Linked DNA regions of Homo sapiens. The protein of the gene in region 3 interacts with the protein of the main gene of each other region in a pairwise test. Each region holds a gene or a part of one and is shown on either strand. Other genes may lie near its edges.

The links.
Region 1: the proteins of WAS (region 3) and SNX33 interact in binary tests that used the Homo sapiens proteins (3 or more experiments, as listed by UniProt).
Region 2: the proteins of WAS (region 3) and SORBS2 interact in binary tests that used the Homo sapiens proteins (3 or more experiments, as listed by UniProt).

What each region holds. Positions count from the first base shown.
Region 1 is NC_000015.10:75,657,900-75,662,825, forward strand, and holds the end of SNX33 (sorting nexin-33), read left to right. Parts: 3' UTR 1-4,402; downstream 4,403-4,926. UniProt on the Homo sapiens protein: Plays a role in the reorganization of the cytoskeleton, endocytosis and cellular vesicle trafficking via its interactions with membranes, WASL, DNM1 and DNM2. Acts both during interphase and at the end of mitotic cell divisions.
Region 2 is NC_000004.12:185,613,171-185,620,206, reverse strand, and holds part of SORBS2 (sorbin and SH3 domain-containing protein 2), read left to right. Parts: intron 1-55; coding exon 56-144; intron 145-1,575; coding exon 1,576-1,622; intron 1,623-5,047; coding exon 5,048-5,162; intron 5,163-5,247; coding exon 5,248-5,376; intron 5,377-7,036. UniProt on the Homo sapiens protein: Adapter protein that plays a role in the assembling of signaling complexes, being a link between ABL kinases and actin cytoskeleton. Can form complex with ABL1 and CBL, thus promoting ubiquitination and degradation of ABL1.
Region 3 is NC_000023.11:48,686,799-48,691,963, forward strand, and holds the end of WAS (actin nucleation-promoting factor WAS), read left to right. Parts: coding exon 1-157; intron 158-1,255; coding exon 1,256-1,298; intron 1,299-1,501; coding exon 1,502-1,655; intron 1,656-1,861; coding exon 1,862-2,268; intron 2,269-2,521; coding exon 2,522-2,636; intron 2,637-3,351; coding exon of another isoform or gene 3,352-3,671; exon of another isoform or gene 3,672-4,308; coding exon 4,309-4,364; 3' UTR 4,365-4,629; downstream 4,630-5,165. UniProt on the Homo sapiens protein: Effector protein for Rho-type GTPases that regulates actin filament reorganization via its interaction with the Arp2/3 complex. Important for efficient actin polymerization. Possible regulator of lymphocyte and platelet function.

The DNA of each region.
Region 1 (4,926 bases), on a different chromosome or scaffold from region 3:
TACTTTCCAAGCAAGTTAGGTACGCTTTCCATGGGGATTCTGGCCTGTGTGGTAGGAAGGGATCTCCCTTGCTCCCATGTTGCTGGCTGTCCGTACATCACCCTGTCCCCTGCAGGAGGGGGCTACAGGCCATCTCCCTCCTGTAGGCCTCTGACTCCCCTCCACTTTTGGGCCCTCAGCTTATCTCGGGCAGGGGACCATTGCAGCATCCTCCCCTCCTCGGACTCAAGGTGCTGAGGTATAAGCCCTGGGCCCCAGATCCCTGGTGACACCTTCCTGGAGAAGACTCTCAAAAGTGACTGTATATTTGAGTTCACCAGCAATAACTCCCCACACTCGAAGCAGGTCCAAACCCAGGATCTCAGGGTCCTTGGGCTCTGTGGCACTGTCTTCCCAAGATCCTTCCTGTTGCACAATGGGAAACCTAAGAGGAAAAAGACAGGGGCCTGCTTGCCCAGCCATGCGAGGGATTCCATGCCCACCTGCCCTCTGTCTGCCTCGCTGGAATGTGGGCCCCTGCTCCCCGTCAGGTTGTGCTGTCTCTGACCTATGTTTACATCCCCGAGGGGTTTCTGCCTCCTCCCCACCCAGGTCAGGGTGTGGTCCAGCAGCTTGCTGTGGGGTGCTGACATGTGTCACCACTGCCCCCCTTGCCCCCGGGGGGGTCATGGTCTCCTCCTGGATGCTGCTCCTTGAATCTTTTTTCTTGATAAACCTTTTACAATTAAGATAACACAAGCATGACTTTTTCTGTTTGGATCCCAGAAAGGCGGAGGGCAGGAGAAGGATAGAGCCCTAATTGCTCCTGAGAGCCATTGGATGAGATTCTGAGGTCGTGGTGGGCACAAATTTTCCACAGAACCTCAAAAGTTCAGGGGAGGGCTATGCTGGTGGAAGGTGCCAGCAGGCAGGAGGAGCTAGAGGCGGCTGTGGACCCCTGGGTGGATCCATCCCTCCCTAGAACGCACTCTTGTCTCTAAAACAGGTGGAGTGCTGCCCAGGGGACTGGCTGTACTGCCTTGTGATCTGGGGCTGAGGGTTGTATGAGGAAGGGACAGGACGCTGTGCCCTAGGACAATTAATAGATGGTGGCTCCTCTCCCCAAGGAGCCATGCCCTGGCCTTGCCCTTGAAAAGCCCTAGTCCAGGGGAGGGAAGTGGGGGACTCAGAAGCTGTGTCTCTTCCCCAAACCGTCCTGGGTACCCAGCCCTGCGGAGGCTCCCACATTGGAAACTGAAGAGGACGCTGGCTGTTGGGGGTGCCCTGATCAGGATGAGCGGACCTTGCTCTTGGATCTGTTCATCCACAGATGAGAGGAGGGTACTGGTTGAGACTTGGCTCTCCTTTGGAGGCAATGGGGACTTGGTGGAGGGAGGGCTTCCAGGGTCAAGGCCGTCAGGGAAGGTTGGCTAGACCAGGGACCAGGGAGCTTGTGCAGGAAGATGGAGAAGGGCCAGCAGGTGCGGTGGGGGAAGGGGCGGGCAGGACTCCCTGTTCAGGGCATAGCGTCCTCAGAGGAACTTCTGGAATGGGTCCCCCTGGCCCTTGGTCAACATTAGGTCAGATTTGGGACTTTCTGAGGAATTTTCCCCTCTCTCCACCCTGCCCCATTTTCTAACCCATCCGAGGAACTTCCCGCCCTTAACCTCTTCTCAGCTCTGCCATCCATGTAGCCATCTGCAGAAGGGGCTCTGAGCAGTGGGGGCTGGGCCAGGCCGAGGCAGGGCTGGTGGGAATGCTCCTCCTAACCCATGGTGCCTGGAAAGTCCCCTGCTCATGCTTCCTGCTCTGGGAACAGTGTTGTCCTCTGTGTGCCTTCCTTGAGAGGGGACCACCTCCCAGGCCTTCCATCCTCAGGGTGAGGCCATCAGTCTGATACTTTTCTCAGGAGGGACTTGGATCCAGGAGAAGCATCAGGAAGTGGAGTCTTGGGATAATGCCAGGCCTGCTCCTGGTATCCTGAGGTCTCTGGGCTGGGGCAGGTGTGTGTGTGGCAGGGAGGGAGGCTGTCCTGGCCCTCCTCTCTCTTTTCTTTCTGCCTCTATGGGGGTGGGGGTATTGGGGGAACTTGGGGCCGTTCTGGGGTAGCTAAGCCCCTTTCAGCAGGAGATTGGGGGACCAGTGTTGGGGGCATCCTGGTGATGGCCGATTCCTGCCTCGTCACATGCCAGGCAGATGTTCCCGACTCGGCTGGACCCAGCTGCCTCGTTTCCTCCCTTACTTTGCTCTGAGGGGGTGGAAAACAAGGCTTCTCTTTCTGCCCTGGACAGCTACCAGCACCCGGGGTAGGGGATCCCCTGGTCACCAGTCTTGGCCCAGTACAGGAAAAGGAATCCGCTTTGTGGCCACAGATGGGGGCTGGGGATGGAAGCAGACCTCAGATCCTGCATCTCTTCACCCGCTGGACACAGGAGGGCTATGAACCACTGTGCCGTGGCTGCACCACTGGCTGGAGCAGAGCCAGGCCTGGGAGAGGCAGGTGGCCCCATCGGCCCCTGCTCTGCACCACCCCTCCCAGATGACAGAGCCATATGTCTTCCACGTGTCTACACACTCACAGACTCACGAATGTAATCGCTCAGTCTCACAACAAGCACACGCAGTCACACACCTGCCCACAGGCACATACGCCACATAAGCATGCCTGTATGCTCACACAGTCATACTGCCACACGCTATTACACATTCACAGCCACAGCCACACATGCCTTGCCATCCATTCAAAGCACCAGTGGCTACTTTGTCAGACACAGCCACACCACAGTCCTATGCACATGGTCATAGCCTCACACAGTGACACATACTCGGGCACACACCGCCACAAAGCCATGCTTGCACAGAGCAAAGGTGTCATAAGCATCTCTGTGCCTGGACTGCACCTGCATGACCTCCCAGGGTCCCCACCTCATCAGAGATTAAGGAGAGCTTTGCTTGGAGACACCACCCCTGGAGGGGGTGTCTCCAAGGGGGAGTAGAGCCAGTCACAAGCACCACATACAGGCACACAGCCTGAGGTCTAGGGATGCAATTGGGATGACTGGATACCACCAAGTTCAGCTCCTTATTGAACAGATGGGCGCCTGAGGCCCAGGGAGCAGTGGTGGCTGGCCTTATCACCCAGCAGGGCAGGGGATACTCTGGGGCCAGAGCCTGGCTCTGGGCAGACTCTGTTTCCTGGCCCTGCCCTCCCCTGGGCCAATCCTCTGGGCCAGGCTGCCTCTGAAGGCCCCTGGCTGAACCGATCCAGCAGAGCTCCAGGCAGCTCCCTTCTCAAGCTAGAGCTGAGCTGCAGTGGCCACGGGAGCCGGAGCCAGGATGCGGTGGGCAGGGCCTAGGCCTGGGCGGGAGGAACATTCCTGCACCATCTCCTCCCCAAGCATGTGAGGACCCAGCCCGCCCTGCCCGCCTGCCCGCTGACTCAGGCCTCCAGGAGCCAAGCCTGCTCAGCTCCCCCACCCACCCTAACCTGCTTCCCCACTAGTTCGGCTCTGGTTCCCCTCTCCACTGGCTGGGGCAGGAGAAGACGGTGAGCCCTGGTAGGAAGACCATGGGGAAAAATCAAACCTCACCACCCCCCGACATAGCTCAGAAGGGCTGATTGTGAAACCCAGCTCTGTTCAACATAGTTGAACACAAACTTTTTTTTTCTTTTGGTTTGGTTTTGTTTTGTTGGTCAAACCCCAGTGCAGTGCAGTCTGTTTAAGAAGTAGTGTCGCATAGCTGTGGCCTGGATCTGCTCAGCAGCCCCAGTAGGCAGCATTTATTCCCTTTCGCAACAAAGAGACTGAGACTTGGCCAGAGGGAAGATGGGACCTGCCTAGGTTCACACAGGGAATCTCTGGCGGGGCTGGACTCAAACCCAGCTCCCTGCCATCACTCCTTAGAGTCACACTGATGAACTCATTTAGGGCCAAAGGAAGAAGGGGAGGCAGATTTCCCCTCTAGATGAGTGAAGGGATAGGAGGCTGGTGAACCCAACGGCTGAAATGTGAAGGGTGAGAGGGTAGGGTGAGTCCCCCCAGCCCTGAGGGATGAAGGGTCTGAAGATGGCACTGCACGGTGACAGCTGCAGTGACTCAGGAGCTCCGTTTACAAAGGAACATGAGTGAGGAACATAACTTAATTTTTTTTTATATCTGACCTGAATTTCTGTTTTCCTCCCCCATTCCCCACATGGTAGAAGTGTAATCTCACATCAATTTGGGGACCCTTTCTTTCCCCAGGGATGTGTAGAACTTTTGGGGATGGCACATTTGAAGACCTTAGGGAGCTTTGCATTTTAAAGGCTGAATCCCACACTCTATCATACATATTAATATTTACCTGCATTCCACATTAAAGGGTTCAGTTTATGACTTGTGTCCTGTCTTGTAGATACTTAATTAAACGGTATTAATTTTGATTTTGCCCCTTTCTGTTGGTGCTCTGCTCTCTTCCCTCCTCCCCGCCCTGCCCACCCAGCAGCACACATTGTTACGGGTTGCTTCTTGCAGAACTCCTGGACCTGGATGCTGCCATTGGGCCTGCGATGCCCGCCATGGTCCTGGTCAGCATTGGGCCCTCCGATCATCTTGCCCTGCCTCCTGCCTTTCCCCTGCATGCTCCCTTGATGCCCATCCTGAGTCTCTGTGTGTCTGGCTCTTCTCTGCTCTTGGGCACTCAGGGCTCCTTCCATTTGCCCTGTACTAAGGGGCTGATAGAGGTCCTTTCTGTGGCCTGTGGCCCCCTCTGGGGCCTGTGGTCATCATTCCACAGCTCCCACTTCGCAGTCAAGCACAGGGAGCTCTGGGGTGCCGCTTAGACACCCCATGCCACCCTGTTTCTTCTGGGATCTGGCTCCTTTCTTGGGGTTCTACCTGGGATGGGGGTATGAGTCCCACTGCTTCGGAATCTCCCAGCCTCTGGGGATTCTACTATCTCCCAGTG
Region 2 (7,036 bases), on a different chromosome or scaffold from region 3:
GTTGGCTTGTAATTAAGTGGATACTCACCATGACTGGCCCTGTTCTTTCCAATAGACCGTGAGTCCCCTAGAAGTTACTCATCCACTTTGACTGACATGGGGAGAAGTGCACCAAGGGAAAGAAGAGGAACTCCAGAAAAAGAGGTAGTTAATTTAATAGCATTGGAGTCTTTCACAGCAACACACTTGATACAGCACTTACCAGCCAAAAATTATCCCAAACCAGTAACGAACTCGGACAGGAAATGTGAAAATACTGAGAAACTAGAAACAATTTTCCTTGGGGCCTGAGCATAGCAACTCTGACCCTAGAAGCAGTCCACACCCTGACCCTAGCTGTGGGTCTTCCCTAGTGGTGGCCCAGTTTTGGCCATGAGGCTTCTCCGAGTCTTGACCTGATGCCCATGAACTTAACCATTATGACCTAAAAGTGTCCTGAGTTAGGGCACCTCGTGGAGGCAATAGGTTTCCTCTACAATTTCTTGGCCCGCTGGTCCAGGAGAAAGCCTGATGTCAACTGTGTTGTAAATCAATACAGAGCCTACAGAAATCATTTTTGCTGGCTTCCTTTTATTGGAGAGGATCCCTAAAAAGAGCTTTTAACCAGCCCAGTTCTCGGGATACTGCCCCTGGGAACCACCCACCAACTGAACTCTGTCCAGGGCCCTGAGCCGGGGCTAGAGTTCTTGCTCAAACTGCCTTGGAGCCATGACGGCTGGATGGAAACTAAAAGCTGGACTTGGACTGGTAGCCGCTCCAGAGGATCTTATAGGCGTCTGATGTAGTCCAGAGCCTGTGGGATCCCCAAAGAAGTTAGAAATGGTCCAGGATTCCTAAAGTTCACCAGAGTCATGGGGGAAAAGAATGGAGTGAAGGGATTGTTGGTTGGTGAGGAAGGAAGAGCTGGCCTAGCTAGCTATAGGGTACAGGGTACCTCAGGGAGATCTGTGGCCCCCAGAGTTTGAGGATGGGCACGTGTCACATCACATCACAACTAAAAGACGAGTGGCTGGTGGACAGAGTGTTGAAGGATTCCTGAGCCCTCTAGGGAATGCAAGATGATCACACCTATACTTTTGCCCACTAACCAGCCTCCCAGTGATAATTGAGCTAATATTTTTTGCTAATATGTTAATAAGTGTCTAATGAAGGGAATGATTACTTCTTTTATGACATCTGGTCCTTTTATTATGATTCAGAGGGAGCTGTGTCAATCTCCATAGAACATAGAGCCATTGACCCTCCACATTTATCCTAGGAAGAGCCTTTGTAACAGCCAAAATGATGCCTAGGATGCAAACCTCTGCAGGCATTTTATTCTCTCATTATAACATTAATCTACCTTAGTTCCTAAGATTAAATATGATGGTGAATAAGCCTTCTATTATATTCCTATTATAGCTTAAATATCTAAATGAAGAATGAATGGACTTATTTATAAATTGCTTACAGGATTAACATTACATATGTTTGATGATTCCCTGAGGTTTCCTTTTTCTTTAAGGCACATTAAACTACTTTCTTGTAGAAAATTCAAATTTTAAATTAGTGCTAATTGTTTATCTTCCTTTTCAGAAATTGCCTGCAAAAGCTGTTTATGATTTTAAGGCTCAGACATCTAAGTAAGTAAGATAAATACTCATCATATGATTTAAGGTGGTTTTAAATGTTAGTAATGCTTTAAGAGATAAGCATTGCAGTAGGATCTGTTACAAATGAGGTCTAATTCCCAATGCAGCAATCTACTCTAATTAAATGGTTCCTTCAGAATTACCTTTTATTTTAAGTTTAGTTGAGAATTACTGAGTTTTAAATTACATTAAACATGTTAGGTAGAACACAATGAATTCTAAAGGATAGGAAAAACAAAAAGAATTTAGGAATATTTGTTTTTAGAATTTTGTGTCAATAATGAATTAATGAAGTATTGGGGGCCAGGCACAGTGGCTCATGCCTGTAATCCCAGCACTTTGGGAGGCCAAGGCAGGCAGATGGCTTGAGCCCAGGAGTTCAAAACCAGCCTGGGCAACATGGCAAAACCATGTCTCTACAAAAAATACAAAAATTAGCTAGGCATGGGGGCATACACCTGTATAGTCCCAGCTACTCAGGAGGCTGAGGCAAAAGGATCGCTTCACCGGGAGGTAGACGCTGCCATAAGCTGAGGTTGCGCCACTGCACTCTAGCCTGGGCAACAGAGCAGGACCCTGTCTCAAAAAAAAGAATGAATAAGTAAATAAATAAAGTATTGGGGAGTAATTAACACTAGCTGGGGGAATTTGATAACATTTATTTATCCAAATATTCCAAGCATAGTTTGTGGGGTTGATGACTAGAACTTAGTACAAAGATTCCTGTATTGAAGTCTCCATCCTCAGCCTGCAAAGCTCAGAGATTCTGAGCAAAGTTTTCTCCTTTGGTCTTTTGGTGTCGGTGTTTTCACCATCCTGAATTGCAATATTTCTTTTGCCTTTATTCTTTGCTCAGCAGATAGGCATGTGGTTGCGGAAGCACATAAGCAGACTTATATATAAGAGGGTGTTGCCCAGATTTTTTGTGGCCTATGTGCACAGACCTTTAAGAAACTTTGTTCTCCAGTAGAATTCAAGACAGATATTGAATTCATTGTAAATTGTCATTAAATTATTATATGTTGTTTACACTGAATATATATATATATAATAACCAAAATAATTTACTCATAAAAATGCATATAATATGAGTTAATAGCTCTAGAAACTGTCTCTGGCAGAAGACATATATAAATAAATCACTCAGAATTTGGTAATGCTGCTGAGATAGGAAATGAACTAGATAAGAAAAATCCTGTTTAGAAATTAAGATGTTGAACATGGCTTAAATCTGGCCTGAAGAAAAGCTTACATCTTTTTTTTTCAAATTAGAGAAATAAGATGCTTTGTTTCTACTGTACTCCGGTCCTAACTACTGTTCTGTGGATATGGTGTGACAATTTGTACAATGCATATCAGTTTTATAAAATAATGTTACGGAGCACACGTTTCATTTCTTCTTTGTAAAAATCAATCCATAGCTTTCTTAAATATATAAAAACCTGAGGAATGGCAGGGGATGTGAAGTAGGAAGGGTGTCCACCCAAGGCTCACGAGGTCTTCTGAGAAGTCTTAATTTTAAAAAGCAGCTGGGCACGGTGGCTCATGCCTGTAATCCCAGCACTTTGGGAGGCCAAGGCAGATGGATCACTCGAGGTCAGAAGTTCGAGACCAGCCTGGCCAACATGGTGAAACCCCGTCTCTACTGAAAATACAAAAATTAGCCAGGGGTGGTGGTGGGTGCCTGTAATCCCAGCTACTCAGGAGGCTGAGGTGGGAGAATCACTTGAACCTGGGAGGTGAAGGTTGCAGTGAGCCAAGATCACACCACTGCACTCCAGCCTGGGTGACAGAGCAAGACTCCATCTCAAAAACAAATAAAAATAAAAGTGAGGGGAAAAAAGCAAATGGGACTTTAAAATTCTAGGTCTGAGATGAGAGGGACACAGTTTTGAAAACTTAAGAGTAAGACTTTCCTGTGTCTTAAGGACTTCAAAATTTTAAATGCAACCTATACAAATACAAAAGAGTCTTTTTCATAGCTTTGAAAAATTGGTTGCCTCTGATTCATATGTTCATATTATATTTTAAAAAGCTAGTCTCATTTCCAGAAACAAAACATACCTAGTACAAATGAAACTGTTGTGTTGTGAACATTAAATATCTTGCTTTGCTTTGTTTTCTGTTTTTTACATTAGGCATTTGCACAAAAGAAGGAAGCACTGTATTTGAATGTAAAGCTCCATGAATCTTCTTTGTTTTTAGGGTTACTGAAAATTTAACACATTTTCAATTGTGAAGATTTTAGCACTTCTAAATGTGTGATCATTCTTTTAATATACCACCATTTTTTCGATTAATTCTTTTAATCAATGAGAAGTGTTCTCCATCAGGTATAAATCTCTCTCCATCAAACGGCCTATACTAATAAATGATCCAACTGAAAATTCTGAACCAAAATTTTTTAAAAAAAGATTAAAAAATGAAAATTCTGAACAAAACAATGCAGAAGATTCCAGAGTGGGAGGGCAGATGTATTGCAAAATGAGGCTCTTGGGAGAAGATACAAATTAATCGCCCTCCATCCAAGAATAATTGCGGAGGCAAAATAATGAACCAACCTAATCACCTGGGTGATTAAGCCAGGAAAAATTGATGTAGTGAAGGTGATAAGTTTAGGTGTGAATTATTCAAAATGCATAATGTCATTATAACTTAAAATTATAAATACCCAAATCAAATATACCTACAATTTTCTTAGAAACAGCCAAAATTGAAAAATATAGTGTCTTAAAAATATTTTTATTTTTTGTAAATAAAAGATAGAAAGGCAAGCATTGGCATATGTCTTTGCACTTAAAACACATTCTTCTTGCCCCACTGAAAATTAAAAGTGTAAGATCTTTTCTGTTACACAAAATAAATTCCTTATCAAGATATTCTATTAAAATACCTGTCAACCAACTTCAAAGATCCACAAATAAAATTTGTTCTGGTGTTGGCACTTCTATTCTGAGGCTACATGATATTTGTTTTCCTTCATGTAAGCTTCAGTACATCAAAAGGGGCTGGGGGGCTAGTAACTAACTAGCCAACTAGCTTCAGGACAAAAAAAAAAAAAATCAGTGCAGAACTATTCCATCATTTTTCCAAGCTTCAAAATGCCTCTTCTCTGAACTAATGGTAAAGTAGCAAGAGTCTGTCCCCTCCTTTAAACTTCTTATTAATCTGTCTGTGATTTATATCCAATGGAATGTTTATACTTACTCTGTTTGAAATCATTTCTAAAGTTATAATGTTTTAAGTGCATTCTAAGAATTTGCAAGGATCATTCTTATCTAATCGGACTCAATATCAATTGGATTTTTTAATATTGTAAGTATATTTGCCAAACAAATGCAGATCTAGCGAGGGTGTTGATCTTGAGAATTATTGCTGTACATCACAAAAAGACCATGTCAACGTGTCTCTTCCAGGGAGTTGTCATTTAAGAAAGGAGATACTGTCTACATCCTCAGGAAAATTGATCAAAATTGGTATGAGGGAGAACACCACGGGAGAGTGGGCATCTTCCCGATCTCATACGTAGAGGTAGGTCCTCTCCCTTTCTCTCTTGGATGGCGGTGGTTTCAAAGGTCACCGCAGATTTGAGAATAAATGACTATTTCCTTCATAGAAACTCACACCTCCTGAGAAAGCACAGCCTGCAAGACCACCTCCGCCAGCCCAGCCCGGAGAAATCGGAGAAGCTATAGCCAAATACAACTTCAACGCAGACACAAATGTGGAGCTGTCACTGAGAAAGGTAGCCCAGCTGGTTTTTTGTTTGTTTGTTTTTGTTTGTTTGTTCTTCAGTGGGTTTGAAAAGGCTGTATATTTTCAAAACTAAAATAGGTTATCTTTTTCTTTAGACATTTTTATGTTTACCCTATTTTCTACAAAGGACTCTTTAAGGCAGCCCAGAGTCACGGTTCCCTGCTGGTCCCTGTGTCCTTTTAGAGGAGTTCCCCGTGGGATACCAGGCTTCTCCCTCTGTGGCTTAGTCTGGGAAGCCGGGCATGGGGCTGAAAATCAAGGACTTATACATTCGGGAGCACAAAAGGAAAAAGCAGTTTGATACACTTCAAAATATGTTGTTTTGCTGCCTTATTTTTCAGTCTTTTAAAAACAAGATATTCCAATCCTTATCTTCCTCTATCTTGGAATCTAGGAATGGTCCTAGGTAAAGAAGATCCTTCCTCTTGGGGGAGCCGCTTTAAGAGCCATCTCTGCAGTGCTCTTCCCTGGATCATCCTTCTTTGGGCCTCATAATTGACCCAAATTTCTCTAGCAGCCCATCCAATCCTAGTATCTCTTCTTAATAATATCAAAAGCCTCGAGGCCGGGCATGGTGGCTCACGCCTGTAATCCCAGCACTTTGGGAGGCCAAGGCAGGTGAGCGAGATTCCATCTCAAAAAAAAAAAAAAAAAAAAAAACACAAAAAAACAATCAAAAACCTCTTTTAACCTGCTAGTTTACATAATTGAGAATGATAAATGAATTATTCTTATTGCTTTCTAAATATGACATATATTTGTTTGAGGTAACTGCCTCTGCACACAACACAGGCGAGGTAGTAATATTTAGAGTGGCTCTAGGACCTCCCACACCTACTAGTGAAATCCTTAGCCAGGTGCGATGAAGAGCAATACCACAGTCCTGGTTTGTTCTGGTCCTGGCAGAACCTTGTCTCATTCTCTCCCATCAGTCTTAATTCTGCATCATCAGCCGATTCCTTCTTTCCTATCCTCTGGGCTGCCCCACCTAGCATGAGAACCACAGAGCATTACATGAACTCTGTCTCCTGTTCCATGTTCTACAGAAAGGCTTCACCAATGCCTCTTACAGCTCACACAACAGCCTAGCAACTACCTGTTCTTGGTATACTAGAAAATCGGTGCAATTTTCAGATTTGGGGAGACTGACTTTTTTTTTTTTTTTTTTTTTTTGAGATGGAGTGTCACTCTGTCACCCAGGCTGGAGTGCAATGTGTGCTCTCAGCTCACTGCAACCTCTGCCTCCCAGGTTCAAGCGATTCTCCCACCTCAGCCTCCCGATTAGCTGGGACTACAGGTGCCCGCCACCACACCCGGCTAATTTTTGTATTTTTAGTAGAGATGGGGTTTCACTATGTTGGCCAGGCTGGTCTCGAACTCCTGACCTCATGATCCGCCCGCCTTGGCCTCCCAAAGTGCTGGGATTACAGGCGTGAGCGATTGCATCCAGCCTGAGACTGACTTTTCTTGAGTATGTTCTGCTCAGCGGTGGTGAAGCACACAAAATCAACCATCCAGCGTTTCAACACAAAGAGAACTTCCAAGTGCTACTCAAGGTCGAAGTTCTTCTTGGGTAGCACCTGAAGAAGGGTGCCCTGTTGGGCTGAGATTAATGACTGTTTCAGCTCCATCACACCATCAGGTGCCGC
Region 3 (5,165 bases):
TCTCCCTGGGGCTGGCGACAGTGGACATCCAGAACCCTGACATCACGAGTTCACGATACCGTGGGCTCCCAGCACCTGGACCTAGCCCAGCTGATAAGAAACGCTCAGGGAAGAAGAAGATCAGCAAAGCTGATATTGGTGCACCCAGTGGATTCAAGTGAGAGCCACTCCCCAGTGGACCCACAGATTCCTGGGGGCAGAGGGGCACATGAACAAGTGGACAGCTGAGTGAATGGAAGGATGGGCAGATGGGCAGATGGCTGGGTGGCTGAGTGGGTAAATGGGTGGTTGGATAGGTAGGTGCAGGGCTGGGTCTAGGGAGAGGTAAATAAGGCACCAAGGGTACAAAATTTAAGGAGGCACTCACTCTCAGAGGCATGCAACTGTAATTCCTGACTCTCAGAGTGAGTGACTCACTTAAATTTTGCACCCTAGGCACCTTACTTGCCTCACCCTGGGCCCACTCTGGGTGGGCTGTTAGGAGAGCAGGTGGGTGGGCAGGTGAACAAATGGATAGATAGATGAGGTAGATGATGGATGAGAAGGGCTGGTGGGTAGGTGGGTGAGTGGATGGGTGGATGGATGGATAAATGAATGGATGAATGAATGGGTTGAAGAATGAATGGATAAGTGGTTGGATGGACAAGTTTATGGGTGGATGGGTTGATGGGAGGTGCGTGGATAGATAGATGGGTGAGTGGATAGGTGTGTGGACAGATTGATATGCAGGCTGATTGGCTCACAGACAAGGTGGATGGGGATGGACAGGTGGACAGATACGTGGATGAATGGACAGTTCAATGGATAAGTGAACAGAAGTGTGTGGTTGCATGGGTAGAAAAATGAGTGGATGGATAGATGGAAAGGTGGGCACATGGGTAGGTGGATGGGTGGATGGACAAGTGTGTGTGAGGACAGACTGGTGGACAAATGGGTGAACAGACATATGTGGGCAGATAGTTGCAGAGACAGATGTATGGACAGATCAGTAGTCCAACAGATGAATGTGAATGAATAGGTGGACAAATGCATGGGATAGATGGGGAAAGAGGGATGGGTGGATGGATCAGCACCACAAACTATGGAGCCCTTCTAATTCCATAACTCCTGCCTATACTCATTCACTCATTCAGTCTCATTCATTAATTCTGGCCCCTCAGAGTCTCTTTGGGCAGGAGAGGGCAAGAGGGTTTCACTATGAAGGGAGGGAAGGAAGGGCAGTGAGGATTCACTGGAGTCTCTTCACCTCTCCCAGGCATGTCAGCCACGTGGGGTGGGACCCCCAGAATGGATTTGACGTGAGTAACTTCAGAGTCTCTTGGACTCCACTAAACTTCCACCCACCCTTCCAAAGACCACTGCTGAGACCCCACCCCCAGATCGTGCCCTTCCCACACCCCTCTCAGATCCCTTGCTGGGATGGACCCAACGACAATCCATGTCGCTTGTCTCCTCGCCTTATTCCTCTACTCCTGCCCCTGGCCTTTTTCCTCCTGGGCAGGTGAACAACCTCGACCCAGATCTGCGGAGTCTGTTCTCCAGGGCAGGAATCAGCGAGGCCCAGCTCACCGACGCCGAGACCTCTAAACTTATCTACGACTTCATTGAGGACCAGGGTGGGCTGGAGGCTGTGCGGCAGGAGATGAGGCGCCAGGGTGAGACCCTGCTTCCATACGCTCCCTTCTCTAGCCCAAGCAGCTCATAGCTAAGATACGCACTAAGTCACTCAGTCCTTATGGGAGCACCTATACTGCTTCAGTCAGGAGTTGGTCAGTGGGGGTACCCATTTTACAAATGAGCAAAACTGAGGCTCAGAAGAAATCAATGAGAGTTACAGCTATGTGTTATACCCCCTCCACAGAGCCACTTCCGCCGCCCCCACCGCCATCTCGAGGAGGGAACCAGCTCCCCCGGCCCCCTATTGTGGGGGGTAACAAGGGTCGTTCTGGTCCACTGCCCCCTGTACCTTTGGGGATTGCCCCACCCCCACCAACACCCCGGGGACCCCCACCCCCAGGCCGAGGGGGCCCTCCACCACCACCCCCTCCAGCTACTGGACGTTCTGGACCACTGCCCCCTCCACCCCCTGGAGCTGGTGGGCCACCCATGCCACCACCACCGCCACCACCGCCACCGCCGCCCAGCTCCGGGAATGGACCAGCCCCTCCCCCACTCCCTCCTGCTCTGGTGCCTGCCGGGGGCCTGGCCCCTGGTGGGGGTCGGGGAGCGCTTTTGGATCAAATCCGGCAGGGAATTCAGCTGAACAAGGTGAGGACAGGCAGGATGGAGGATTGGGGGTCTAGGACTCTGGGGTGTCCCGTCTAAGTCAGGATACTGGGGGGCTGAGGCCAGGACTGAGGAGAGTGCCAGGCCTTAGGGATTCAGTGATAGGGTTGAAAGGTTGGTGGGAAGCCTTGAAGGGGACTGGAGTGTGTGGGAGAGAAAATATTGATGGAGGGGCGGGGAGAAATGCTCCTTTCCCAGGCCCTAAGCCCTCTGTGCTGATCCCTGCCTGCTGCAGACCCCTGGGGCCCCAGAGAGCTCAGCGCTGCAGCCACCACCTCAGAGCTCAGAGGGACTGGTGGGGGCCCTGATGCACGTGATGCAGAAGAGAAGCAGAGCCATCCACTCCTCCGGTGAGCTGATCCTGCCGGGGCCTCAAACCTGGCTCCCAGGGCTAGCACTGGCCTCAAAACAATCCCAGCAGTCACCACCAATAGTGACATCAGCCCCATCTGTTTGACAGCATTAACATGAATCTTGTGTCAGCCTCGTTTTTGACAATGTTAACATTAAGTCATTATGTGACAATAATATAATTAACTCCAACTTTGACAGTAATATTAACATTAATGCCAGGGTGTGTCCACAATATTAATGTCATTCCCACATGTTCAGTACTATTAACATCAGCTGGCCGGCGCGGTGGCTCATGCCTGTAATCCAGGAACTTTGGGAGGCTAAGGCAGGAGGATCACTTGAGCCCAGGAGTTCGAGACCAGCCTGGGCAATATAGTGAGACCTCGTTTCCATAAAAACTAAATTCAAAAAAAGTAGTCAAGCATAGTGGTGTGTGCCTGTGGTCCCAGCTACTTGGGAGGCTGAGGTGGGAGGATTGCTTGACCCTGGGAGGTCAAGGCAGCAGTGATCCATGATTGTGCCACTGCACTCCAGCCTGGGTGACAGAGATCCTATCTCAAAAAAAAAAAAAATTAACCCATTATGTGATGACAATATTATGAAGAACACTATTGTTGACAATATTAATTTTAATTCCATGTATTAACAGATTTACATTAATTCATTATGACGTAACCTAATCTAATCTTTTAAAAAATTTTTTTGAAACAGGGTCTCGCTCTGTGTCCCAGGCTGGAGTACAGTGGTGCAATCATGGCTCAGTGCAGCCTCAACCTCCCAGGCTCAAGCGATCCTCCCGCCTCAGCTCCCAAAGTAGCTGGGACTACAGGCGTGTGCCACCATACCTGGCTAATTTTTGGTGTTTTTTTGGTAGTGATGAGCTCTCACTACCAAGCTCTCACTACTCTCATGTTGCCCAGGCTGCTCTGCAACTCCAGGGCTCAAGCGATCTGCCCCGCCTCAGCCTCCCAGAGTGCTGGGATTACAGGCATGAGCCACCAGGCCTGGCTGTTAACCTAATCTTTTTATAATAATGTTACTATTACTCTCTTAATCTGTCAGCAATACTGTCACTAATCCATTATATGATGCAAATATTAGTATCAACCTACTATAGGAACTTCATCTTTCGACAATGATTTTTTTTTTCTTTTGAGACGGAGTCTTGCTCTGTCACCCAGGCTGGAGTGCAGTGGCGCGATCTTGGCTAACTGCAGACTCTGCCTCCTGGGTTCAAGCGATTCTCCTGCCTCAGCCTTCCGAGTAGCTGGGACTACAGGCACGCCACTACGCCCAGCTAATTTTGATGTTATTGTCATTAACCCCATTATGTGTCAAAAATATTAGCGTTAACCAGACAGGAAGCAATAATATATTATCACACCTTTGCTAATATTATTTAAATTCACCCTATTATGTGATAAATAGGTTAACATTAACCCTTTGTTTGACAATATCTCGACTAACCACATTTTTGACAGCATAAACTTCAACTCCAACTAGAACTCAGACCCCAACTATAATCCCTTTCTTGTCCCAAATGGAAACTCTAACTTGCCCTCCTCTAGCATGAGACCTCAGAACCCCAGGGTCCAGTCCTCACCTCCCAGGCCCTATGAAGCCCCCCACCAACCTCCCAGGGCATCTTATCTTTCTCTTTCCCTCCAGACGAAGGGGAGGACCAGGCTGGCGATGAAGATGAAGATGATGAATGGGATGACTGAGTGGCTGAGTTACTTGCTGCCCTGTGCTCCTCCCCGCAGGACATGGCTCCCCCTCCACCTGCTCTGTGCCCACCCTCCACTCTCCTCTTCCAGGCCCCCAACCCCCCATTTCTTCCCCACCAACCCCTCCAATGCTGTTATCCCTGCCTGGTCCTCACACTCACCCAACAATCCCAAGGCCCTTTTTATACAAAAATTCTCAGTTCTCTTCACTCAAGGATTTTTAAAGAAAAATAAAAGAATTGTCTTTCTGTCTCTCTATAAATCTCAGTCTGTTTACATTCCAAATGTGGGAATGGGGTCCCTTTCCCCCAAAGTCCCTTTTATTCATTTATCCCATTTTATTTATTTAGCCTTACATGTATATATTCATTCATTCATTTATTCCCTCAGTCATTTAGCCTGTATTTCTTTGTTTCCTTCTGCCCCTCTGTCTTTCAACATTTATTGTCAGGTACTATTTTAGGGGCTAGGAATCAAGAAGTGGGAAAAAAAACAGACAAGAATTCCTGCCCTTAGGGGGTGAAATCCACATTCTAGGGGAAGAGACAGACAAGAAACAAGAAATCAAATAGAAATAAAAGATAGCTGCAGATCATGATAAATGCTGTGGAGTGGTAAGGCAGAGATACAGATGAAACAACATTCAGATGGAGCAGTCAGGGATGGTCACTTGGAGTAGGTGATGGTGGTGCTGGACCTAAAGAGAGAGAAATGTCGGCCCAGTTAATATTTGGGGAAAAGGGGTTCCAGGCTGAGGGAGCAGCCAGTGCAAAGGCCCTGAGGTGAGAAAAGGCTTGG